Linked DNA regions of Homo sapiens. The protein of the gene in region 2 purifies or fractionates together with the protein of the main gene of each other region. This does not show direct contact. Each region holds a gene or a part of one and is shown on either strand. Other genes may lie near its edges.

Region 1 (4,435 bases), on a different chromosome or scaffold from region 2:
ACAAGGATTATTTAGGTAATTGATAAGGGAAGCCCCAGAGTTTTTGTTTTGACTGTCTTTTTCTCCTCTCTCTTCCTTATTGTGTTTTAAGATGTGCTTACTCTCTATGGACTTACAGAGGGATTTTTATTTAGTCAAAGATTAAAACAAAAACAGGTTTGTATTTGCAATCGAAAGAGAAGCAGAAGCTGCCCAAGTACAGTCATGCGCCACAGAATGTTTCAGTCAATAACGAACCACATAGTCAGAGGTGGCTCCATAAGATTACTGTACCTTTTCTATGTTTACATACATATGTACTTACCATTGTGTTACAACTGCCTACAGTATTCAGTACAGTACAGTAACACACTGTACAGGTTTTGTAGCCTGGGAGCAATAGGTATGCAGTAGGCTAAACCATTTAGGTTTATGTAAGTACATTCTACGATGTTTACACAATGATGAATCGTTTAATGATAGATTTCACAGAGGGTATGACCATGAGATGATATATGACTATATTCCATTGAATACCAGAAGGTAACTGGATTCTAACAGGAATTTTAAATTAGTTCTATATTTTCCAAATTTTAAGAAGTTATAAAGAGTTGATCAGCAAAACCAAAATATTTATTAATCAGATCCTATTATACGTTCCCAGGATGAATGGTTCCATTCTGCTATACCAGAATTTTGTTCTATGAACTATAAATTAAAATAATGGGTCAAATACTGACTTAGCAATCTTGAGATTTTTGATGTAGTTGTATTGTGATATTTGTTGTAATGGAGAATGACTAGTAGTTCTAGTTTTTAAGACATTGGTTGGCCTATCTTATCTTTTTTCACTAAATTGGAAAATCCCTAAAGGTCTAGCTTTCAGATGGAACCCAAGCTCTCTGCTTAGTAGTGCTGTTAAGTTCAAACACAGGACTAATTACAGGGACTATTCTCTTTGCTTTGTTCCACTTATGGCACAAACTGCATCCTGACCTCTCGCCATCGACCTAATGATTATATGCTGCTACAACAGAATAAAGTGCAGATGCAAATCCACCACAAAATGAGGAAAAAATTAAAGCCTCTACTTTCTGGATGCTGTAACACAAGTGCCAACTTTAGGCAAAAAGGTCAGCACGTATGTTTCAGACTCCTTACTGCAGGTGCTTCAGGGTTTGCTCCACTAATGCCTAGGTGACTAACAAATTTTCAGTCACATTTAGCAGATATTAATGGCACATAAAAAGAACAAAAGGGACAGACTGGATATTACAATATAGGGTAGTTTGTGTGGCTGGCCACATTGAGTCCTACATACCTCTCCAGCACCACTCACCCGGAGAAGTGGATATGGATGCCAGCTACTGTTTTTTCTCCCTTCCCAAACAGATACAGCTTGGCCTACAGCTGCACTGCCCCATAACAAGGAGACTTCACTTGACACCTAACTCCTGACAGGACTCTGCATCCTTACATCAGTAACAGAAGCTGGCTGGGGATGAAAAATTGTTAACTGCAACTTCTGAAAACCTTTTCAGAAATAAACTCTTCCTCTATTCCAAATCTCAAGGTCTTCAACTAGCCTACCGTAGAGCTTGAGGGGTGTTAAAGTTAGCTTGAGGCTCAGCCACACGCTCCTCCTCTTCTGGGCCATCATCTTCCATGTTGGAGAATCCCATCTCATCTTGGAACTGTGGGCAAAGGAAAGGGAGGGTTTTCCTGGGGAATGGGCTTTTGAATGTTGCTCCAGTGTTGGGAAGGAAAAGTGAAAACTATAAACAATACTTTAATAATGCTGGCACCCAGAAAGAGCCTACATCAGAACCTTTCTCACTTCAGGACTCCTACAAACCCACATATGGAATGACTATTATGCCAGGAAAGAAGTTGCTCAACCAGTCAACTTGTATCAGTAAGCACAGAGCTAGGATAACTCAAAATGATCAATTTCTTAAACAGAAATATCTTTTTAGACAAATTTATGGAAAAGGTAATTATTTGTGTGCAAAATACTTTAAAACTAGTTGGCAATCTTTAAGGACACACCAAATGACAGTAGGGGAAGCCATCAAAAGTTTTCAAGGGGCAAGATGTGCTGGCTCACACCTGTAATTCCAGCACTTTGGGAGGTTGAGGCAGGAAGATTACTTGAGCCTATGAGTTCCAGAACATGGCAAGACCCTGTCTCTACAAAAAAATAAAATAATTAGCCGGGCCTGTAGGTGTGTGCCTGTAGTCCCAGCTACTCAGGAGGCTTAGATGAGAGAATTGTTTTGAGCCCTGGAGGTCGAGGCTGCTGTGAGCTGAGATTTCACCACTGTATTCTCCAGAGCCTGGGTGACAGAGCAAGACTTTGCCTCAAAAAAAAAAAAAAAAAGCTTCAAGGAAAATTTTAGTAAGAATAACCTACATGTGGATAATCAAGAGTCTAGCAGTTAGCAAATTTCTTTTGTCATTATATTCTTTCCCAGGTAGACTAAAAGGAGAATTGGTTCAGTCCCTCTTCTAGAAGGAGCATCACAGAGATCAAAGGACACATTTTGTTGGAGAACCAACTTACAATCCCATGTTCTCACTTGAGGATCATTACTCACAGTTTCAAACAGATCTTCCATCAGCTCATTTGCTTCCTTTTCTGCAAAAAAGCCAAACGTTGTTGGTATAAATTAGATTCATTTTACAATATGGAGGAATTCCATGTAGACAATGTATGATGTTTTCAACAAGGCATCTGACGAATTCTTCATATCTATCCTTATTCCTGAGACAGGGTCTCACTCTGTCACCCGGGCTGGAGGGCAGTGGCTTGATCTCGGCTCACTGCAATCTCTGCTTCCCAGGCTCAAGCGATCCTCCCACTTCAGCCCTCCAAGTAGCTGGGGCAACAGGAGTGTGCTGTCATGCCCGGCTAATTCTTCCATATTTTGTAGAGATGGGTTTTCCCCATGTTGCCCAAGCTGGTCTTGAACTCCTGAGCTCCAGTGATCCACCCACCTTGGCTTCCCAAAGTGCTGGGGTTACAGGCATGAGCCACCACGCCCAGCTATCCTTCATTCATTTATTCAAAAACATTTATTGAGTACTTACTATGTTTCAATCCCTGTTTTAGATGCTTGGGATATATGAGAGAATGAGAGAGAGAGAGAGTTCTAATCTCATTGAACTTAAATTCTAATAGGAAGAAGACAAGGAGAAAATGTGAGCTAGATGATTTTTTTTTTTTTTTGAGACGGAGTTTCGCTCTTGTTGCCCAGGCTGGAGTGCGATGACACGATTTTGGCTCACTGCAACCTCCGCCTCCCAGGTTCAAGCTATTCTCCTGCCTCAGCCTCCCAAGTAGCTGGGATTACAGGCATGCACCACCACGCCCAGCTAATTTTGTGTTTTTAGTAGAGATGGGGTTTCTCCATATTGGTCAGGCTGGTCTCAAACTCCTGACCTCAGGTGATCCGCCCACCTCAGCCTCCCAAAGTGCTGGGATTACAGGCATGAGCCACCATGACCAGCCCAATGATTTTATAATTAGATGGCCTATCCAAACCCACACAATACTGAATGGAATCAAGAGACAAGTCTCCCAACCTGGGCAAAATGTCAACATATCTCTAAAAAAAAATTTATCTGGGCTTGGTCGCACATGCATATAGTCCCATATACTTGAGAGGCTGAGGTGAGAGAATCTCTTTGAGTCCAAGAAGCAGAGGCTGTAGTGAGCTGAGACCGTCCCACTGCATTCCAGCCTGAACGACAGAGCAAGACACTGTCTCCAAAAAAAAAAGAGACAGACAGAGACAAGTTTCCAACAGTGTTTCATAGGACTCTATCTTTGGACCCGACCTATTCAAAAACTCCATCAGTGAATTAGAAGACCAAGAGAACATACTTAACAAATCTGTAGATGATGTAAAGCTGTAAAGCTGAAAGGGACTGCCAATCCAATTGATGGAAAATTCAGAATCATATTTTCTCAAATCAACTGGATGTAACACGTAAGGATAAATTTAAAGTTCTACATTGAGGATTTTTTTTTTTTTTTTTTTTTAAATAGAGCCAGGGACTTGCTATGTTGCCCAGGCTGGTCTTGAACTCCTGGGCTCCAGCGATCCTCCCACCTCATCCTCCCAAAGTGCTGGGATTACAGACATGAGCCACCCCACCTGGCAAGATCTTATATGTGTATTCAAGATATTACACAACTCACTAAGTCTCCAGATGAAAACCAGAATCTCTAAATATAGTTTGACAGTTTGACAATGCCCAATGACAGACTAAATGAGAAATTAGGAGGCAGCTTGATTTTTTTTTATTTCCTCAGAGATCTTTGTTCTGAGTTCTGACTCTTGTTCTACAAATATTCAAAGTCGAAATGATTATCATGTTAATGGGTAAAGAGCTTCAAATCTTTGGCTATCTCATTTTTTTTTAATTTTTATTCATTTGTTTTACCTTATGT
Region 2 (5,371 bases):
TTCAAAACCAGTCTGGCCAACATGGTGAAACTCCATCTCTACTAAAAACACAAAAATTAGCTGGGCATGGTGGTACGCGCCTGTAGTCCCAGCTACTCAGGAGGCTAAGGCAGGAGAATCGCTTGAACCTGGGAGGCAGAGGGTGCAGTGAGCTGAGATCACACCACTCCACTCCAGCCTAGGTGACAGAGCAAGACTCATCTCAACAACAACAACAACAAAAAAGAAATAGCTGGGCACAGTGGCTCACGGCTGTAATCCCTGTAATCTTAGCACACACTTTGGGAGGCTGAGGTGGGTGTCCCAAGAGTTTGAGACAACTCTGGGCAACATGATGAGAACCTGTCTCTACAAAAATACAAAAATTAGCTGAATGAGGTGGCGGACGCTTATAGTCCCAGCTACTCGGGAGGCTGAGGTGGGAGGACTGCTTGAGCCTGGCAGGTGGAAAAGCTGCAGTGAACTGAGATTGCACCACTTTCCTCCAGCCTGGCTGATAGAGTGAGGACCCTGTCTTCAAAAAAAAAAAAAAAAAAAAAACCACAAAAAACCCAAAACAAAAGCTACTTTGCAGTATCTGCACAGGAATAAACACTACTTGAAAAAGAGAGGGTGAACTGCAATCCACAGTGTGCCTTTTAGGACTCTCAGGATAACACAGCCATATTTTTGCATGAGAAATGGGATAAAGCGAGAAATGGGATAAAGTGAGATAAAGAAAATACAATTTGTTAAGTTGGATTCTGGTCCCTAGCTGTTCCCCCATCAAGCTGTGTGATGCTGGGCAAGTTATTTAGCTGGCTCTAGGTCTTATATGTAAAACTATGTTTTCTCATCTGCTTCCCACAGGGTTCTTGGTATGATGAAATGGCATGTCAGAAAAAGGTATTTTGAAACCTTCAAAGTACACTAAAATAAGTATTTTTTCCCTCTTCAATAAAGAATGAGGGTGCTCTTACAGAGAATATGTTATAAAAGATTTGAGGTGGAAGCTTAATTTACTCAGTGGTCAGAACTAAACTCAGTATTTTCTTCAGCCTTATTGAGGTTTGTCATACAATATACGACACATAAAGTATACAATTTGAGGTTCTGACATATGTATATATCCATGACATCATAACCACAATCTACATAATGAACATACTCATTACCCTGAGGTTTCCTCATGCCCTTTGTAAACTTCCTCCTTATCCCACCATGCCACATCTTAGCATAAATAGAATTTTAGTTCAGGCAGGACCACAGCAAAAAAATTACCACAGGATAGAAAGTAGGGCTCTCGGCCAGGTGCAGTGGCTCACGCCTGTAATCTCAGCACTTTGGAAGGCCGAGGTGGGTGGATCACAAGGTCAAGAGATCAAGGCCATCCTGGCCAACATGGTGAAACCCCGTCTCTACTAAAAATACAAAAATTAGCTGGGCGTGGTGGTGTGTGCCTGTAGTCCCACCTACTCGCGAGGCTGAGGCAGGAGAATCACTTGAACTCAGAAGGCAGAGGTTGCAGTGAGCTGAGATCACGCCACTACACTCCAGCCTGGCAAAAGAGCGAGACTCTGTCTCAAAAAAAAAAAACAACAACAACAAAAAAAAAGTAGAGCTTTCTAAAAGAACATGGAAACTACTAACTAATATCCTGACTGGTGGCTCCCAACAAAGGCTTCTGTGGCCACACATTTGTCTGTGGTGTTTGAAAGTCTAGTGCCCTTTTGTGTCACTCCCCCCACACCCCTTTTTTTTTGAGACAGAATTTCGCGCTCATTGCCCAGGCTGGAGTGCAATGGTGCGATCTCAGCTCACCGCAACCTCCGCCTCCCAGGTTCAAGCAATTCTCCTGCCTCAGCCTCCTGAGCAGCTGGGATTACAGGCATGCGCCACTGCGCCCGGCTAATTTTGTATTTTTAGTAGAGACGGGGTTTCTCCATATTTATTGGTCAGGCTGATCTCAAACTCCCGACCTCAGGTGATCCACCCGCCTCGGCCTCCCAAAGTGCTGGGATTACAGGCGTAAGCCACCACGCCTAGCCATCGCTCCCCTTTTTGAACACACTTCCAAATGTTCCATACAGAGCACTATACCTGTTTGGAAACCAACAAAGAAACTGAAAGTCAGAACCCATATGCAGTGCAGCTGTAGGCCTGAGGTGCACACAGGGACTCTTACCACTGCCTCGCTCCCTGGAACAGACAGACTTGACGTTGTATGATGGCTGCCGTGGATCCAAGAAGGAGACATGAGCTTGGGAGCCCACTGCATAAACTGACCATTCACTACCATAAGCCAGACACACATTCTCACGGCAATATGGCAGTTTGGTGGAGAGGAGCTGAAAATAGAGGAGAGATATAACCATGGCATCAGCAGAGAGGGTAAGGCAGGGATATTGTTTCTGGACTCCCACCTTGATGGGCTTCCCTCATATAAAAGCCACATAAAATCAAGCCCTGATTACAGAAATAACACTCTGTTCCACCCCTAGGTATACAGGAGAAAGAGGAGGTGAATGTTAATAAACGGTAAGACCTAGATACTGAAGGAGATAGGTTGGGGAAAAGGTAAATCTGGAATAAATAATCAGAAGTAGCTGGAAAGGCCAAGGCCTTTCTTGGTAGGCTGTTTCAACTATTCAGGTTGTTTCTGGGAATCGTTCCAGGGCACTAAAGCCATAGTCCCACTCTGTTCTGTCTGCCAGGAAGGGCCACCTCAGTGCTTTTCAGATAAAGAGGCTGATCTCTGGCTACCCCCAGCTCACCTTCCCACCTGAATGGGAATTGTACGCTATAGAAAGCACGCCCATGGGACTAGCTTAATCCCAGATAACCCACATCAGCCTTAACCCTGGGTCTTCGTCAGTTAGCAAATCCTCAGTGGGTGCATACAACACATAAGACAGCATACAAGGTCAGTGGAGCTCAAAGGCTATTGTGACATGAAGGAATCACTAATTCCTGGAACCCTGCTTCCTCTTGCAAAGTCCTCAAGGATAAGAAGAAGAGAAAAAGCTGGGCGTGGTGGCTAACGTCTGTAATCCCAGCACTTTGGGAGGCTAAGGCAGGCAGATCACCTGAGGTCAGGAGTTTGAGACCAGGCTGGCCAACCTGGTGAGATGCCATCTCTACTAAAAATACCAAAAATTAGCTAGGGGTAGTGGTGCATGCCTGTAATCCCAGCTACTCAGGAGGCTGAGGAAGGAGAATCACTTGAACCTGGGAGGCGGAGGTTGCAGTGAGCTGAGATCGTGCCACTGCATTCTAGCCTGGGCAACAAAGTGAGACTCTGTCTCAAAAAAAATAAAAAAAAGACAAATGATTCACAGGTAGGTTTAACTCTATGTAAAAGTTGCTTGTTGAATCTCCCTTATCCAAAAGGCTTGTGACTACAAATGTTTTGAATTTCGGATTTCTCCAGCTTTTTTTTTTTTTTTTTGAGACGGAGTCTCGCACTGTCGCCCAGGCTGGAGTACAGTGGCGCGATCTCAGCTCACTGCAAGCTCCACCTCCTGGGTTCACACCATTCTCCTGCCTCAGCTTCCCGGGTAGCTGGGACTACAAGCGCCCACCACCACGCCCGGCTAATTTTTTGTATTTTTAGTAGAGACGGGGTTTCACCATGTTAGCCAGGATGGTCTCAATCTCCTGACCTTGCGATCCGCCCACCTTGGCCTCCCAAAGTGCTGGGATTATAGGCGTGAGCCACCGCACCCGGCCCCGATTTTTAAATATCTACATATATGTAAGGAGCTATCTTGGGGATGGCACCCAAGTCTAACCACAAAATTCATTTATGTTTCATATACATCTTATACACATAGAGTGAAGGTAATTTTATGCAATATTTTAAATAATTTTCTGCATTAAACAATGTTTGGTACACTGACCTGTCAGAAAGCAAAGGTGTCCCATGTGAAATTTTCCATTTGTGGCATTGTGTTGGTGCTCAAAAAGTTTTGGACTTTGGAGGCTTTTTTTTTTGAGAGAGAGTCTTGCTCTGTTGCCAGGCTGGAGTGCAGTGGCATGATCTCGGCTCACTGCAACCTCTGCCTCCTGGGTTCAAGCGATTCTCCTGCCTCAGCCTCCCAAGTATCTGGGACTACAGACGCCCACCACCACGCCCAGCTAATTTTTGTATTTTTAGTAGAGACGGGGTTTCGCCATGTTGGCCAGCATGGTCTCAATCTCTTGACCTCATGATCCACCTGCCTCGGCCTCCCAAAGTGCTGGGATTATAGGCGTGAACCACCGCGCCAGGCCTTTTTTTTTTTTTTTTTTTTTTTTTTGAGATAGGGTCTCGCTCTGTCACCCAGGCTGGAGTGCAGTGGCAAAATTACGGCTCACTGCAGCCTTGACCTCCTCAGCTCAAGTGGTCCTCCTGCCTCAGCACTGCTACCCTCCAGTAGCTGGGACTACAGGCATATGCCACAATGTATGGCTAATTTTTAAATTTTGTTGCAGAGATAGGGTCTTACTGTGTTGCCCAGGCTAGTTTTGAACTCCTGGGCTCAAGCAATCCTCCTGCTTCAACCTCCCAAAGTGTTGGGATTACAGGCCTAAGGTATTGTGCCCAACTGGATTTTGGAGCATTCTGGATTAGGGATGACCAATTTGTATTGTAAATTAAGTCTATTTTCTCATTACCTTACATGATTATTTCAGAGATGGTTTATCTTAATTTGATCGATCTTCAATTGCCAAAGGTTCCTAACACTCAGGATTTCCTTCCCTTACAGCATGCCAAGTAGTCATCAATCTATAAAGAAATACTTAAATGCATTGTTGAGGAGGACTGCTAGTCAAAGGAGCCTCTCAGGAAGCTTATGCAATAGGAAAGAATCACCCTGTCTTACTCTTTAAAAGACTTTCCTGCAAGAGAGGCACACCAGACTCAAAATTTCATGTACTGTGCAAAAACATGCCCAGGCCTTTGGAGAACTGGTCTTTTAAACAAGAATTGAGACCAGGTGCAATGGTTCATGCCTGAATGCCCAGCACTTCGGGAGACCAAGGTGGGAGGATCGCTTGAGGTCAGGAGTTCAAAACCAGCCTGGGAAACATAGTGAGACTCTGTCTCTACAAAAAATTAAAAAAACAAAACAAAACAAAAAAAACAACCAGATGGGTGTGGTGACACATGCCCATAGTCTCAGCTACTTGGGAGGCTGAGGCAAGAGGATCGCTTATGCCCAGGAGTTCAAGGCTGCACTGATCCATGAGCCATGACTGCACTCCAACTTGGGTGACAGAGTGAGACCCTGTATTTATTGTCTTTAAAAATAAAAATACCAACCTGGCCAACATGGTGAGACTGTGTTCCTACTAAAAATACAAAAAAAATACCTGGGCATGTTGGCAGACGCCTGTAATCCCCGCAGCT

What was found.
Region 1: the proteins of DCAF12 (region 2) and YY1AP1 purify together in Homo sapiens (affinity purification with mass spectrometry; one large-scale study listed by BioGRID and IntAct). This does not show direct contact.

Annotation. Positions count from the first base shown.
Region 1 is NC_000001.11:155,677,840-155,682,274, forward strand, and holds part of YY1AP1 (YY1-associated protein 1), read right to left. Parts: intron 2,618-4,435; coding exon of another isoform or gene 2,598-2,617; coding exon 2,577-2,597; intron 2,170-2,576; exon of another isoform or gene 2,089-2,169; intron 1,991-2,088; exon of another isoform or gene 1,674-1,990; coding exon 1,570-1,673; intron 1,475-1,569; exon of another isoform or gene 1,269-1,474; intron 1-1,268. UniProt on the Homo sapiens protein: Associates with the INO80 chromatin remodeling complex, which is responsible for transcriptional regulation, DNA repair, and replication. Enhances transcription activation by YY1. Plays a role in cell cycle regulation.
Region 2 is NC_000009.12:34,091,122-34,096,492, forward strand, and holds part of DCAF12 (DDB1- and CUL4-associated factor 12), read right to left. Parts: intron 2,328-5,371; coding exon 2,165-2,327; intron 1-2,164. UniProt on the Homo sapiens protein: Substrate-recognition component of a DCX (DDB1-CUL4-X-box) E3 ubiquitin-protein ligase complex of the DesCEND (destruction via C-end degrons) pathway, which recognizes a C-degron located at the extreme C terminus of target proteins, leading to their ubiquitination and degradation.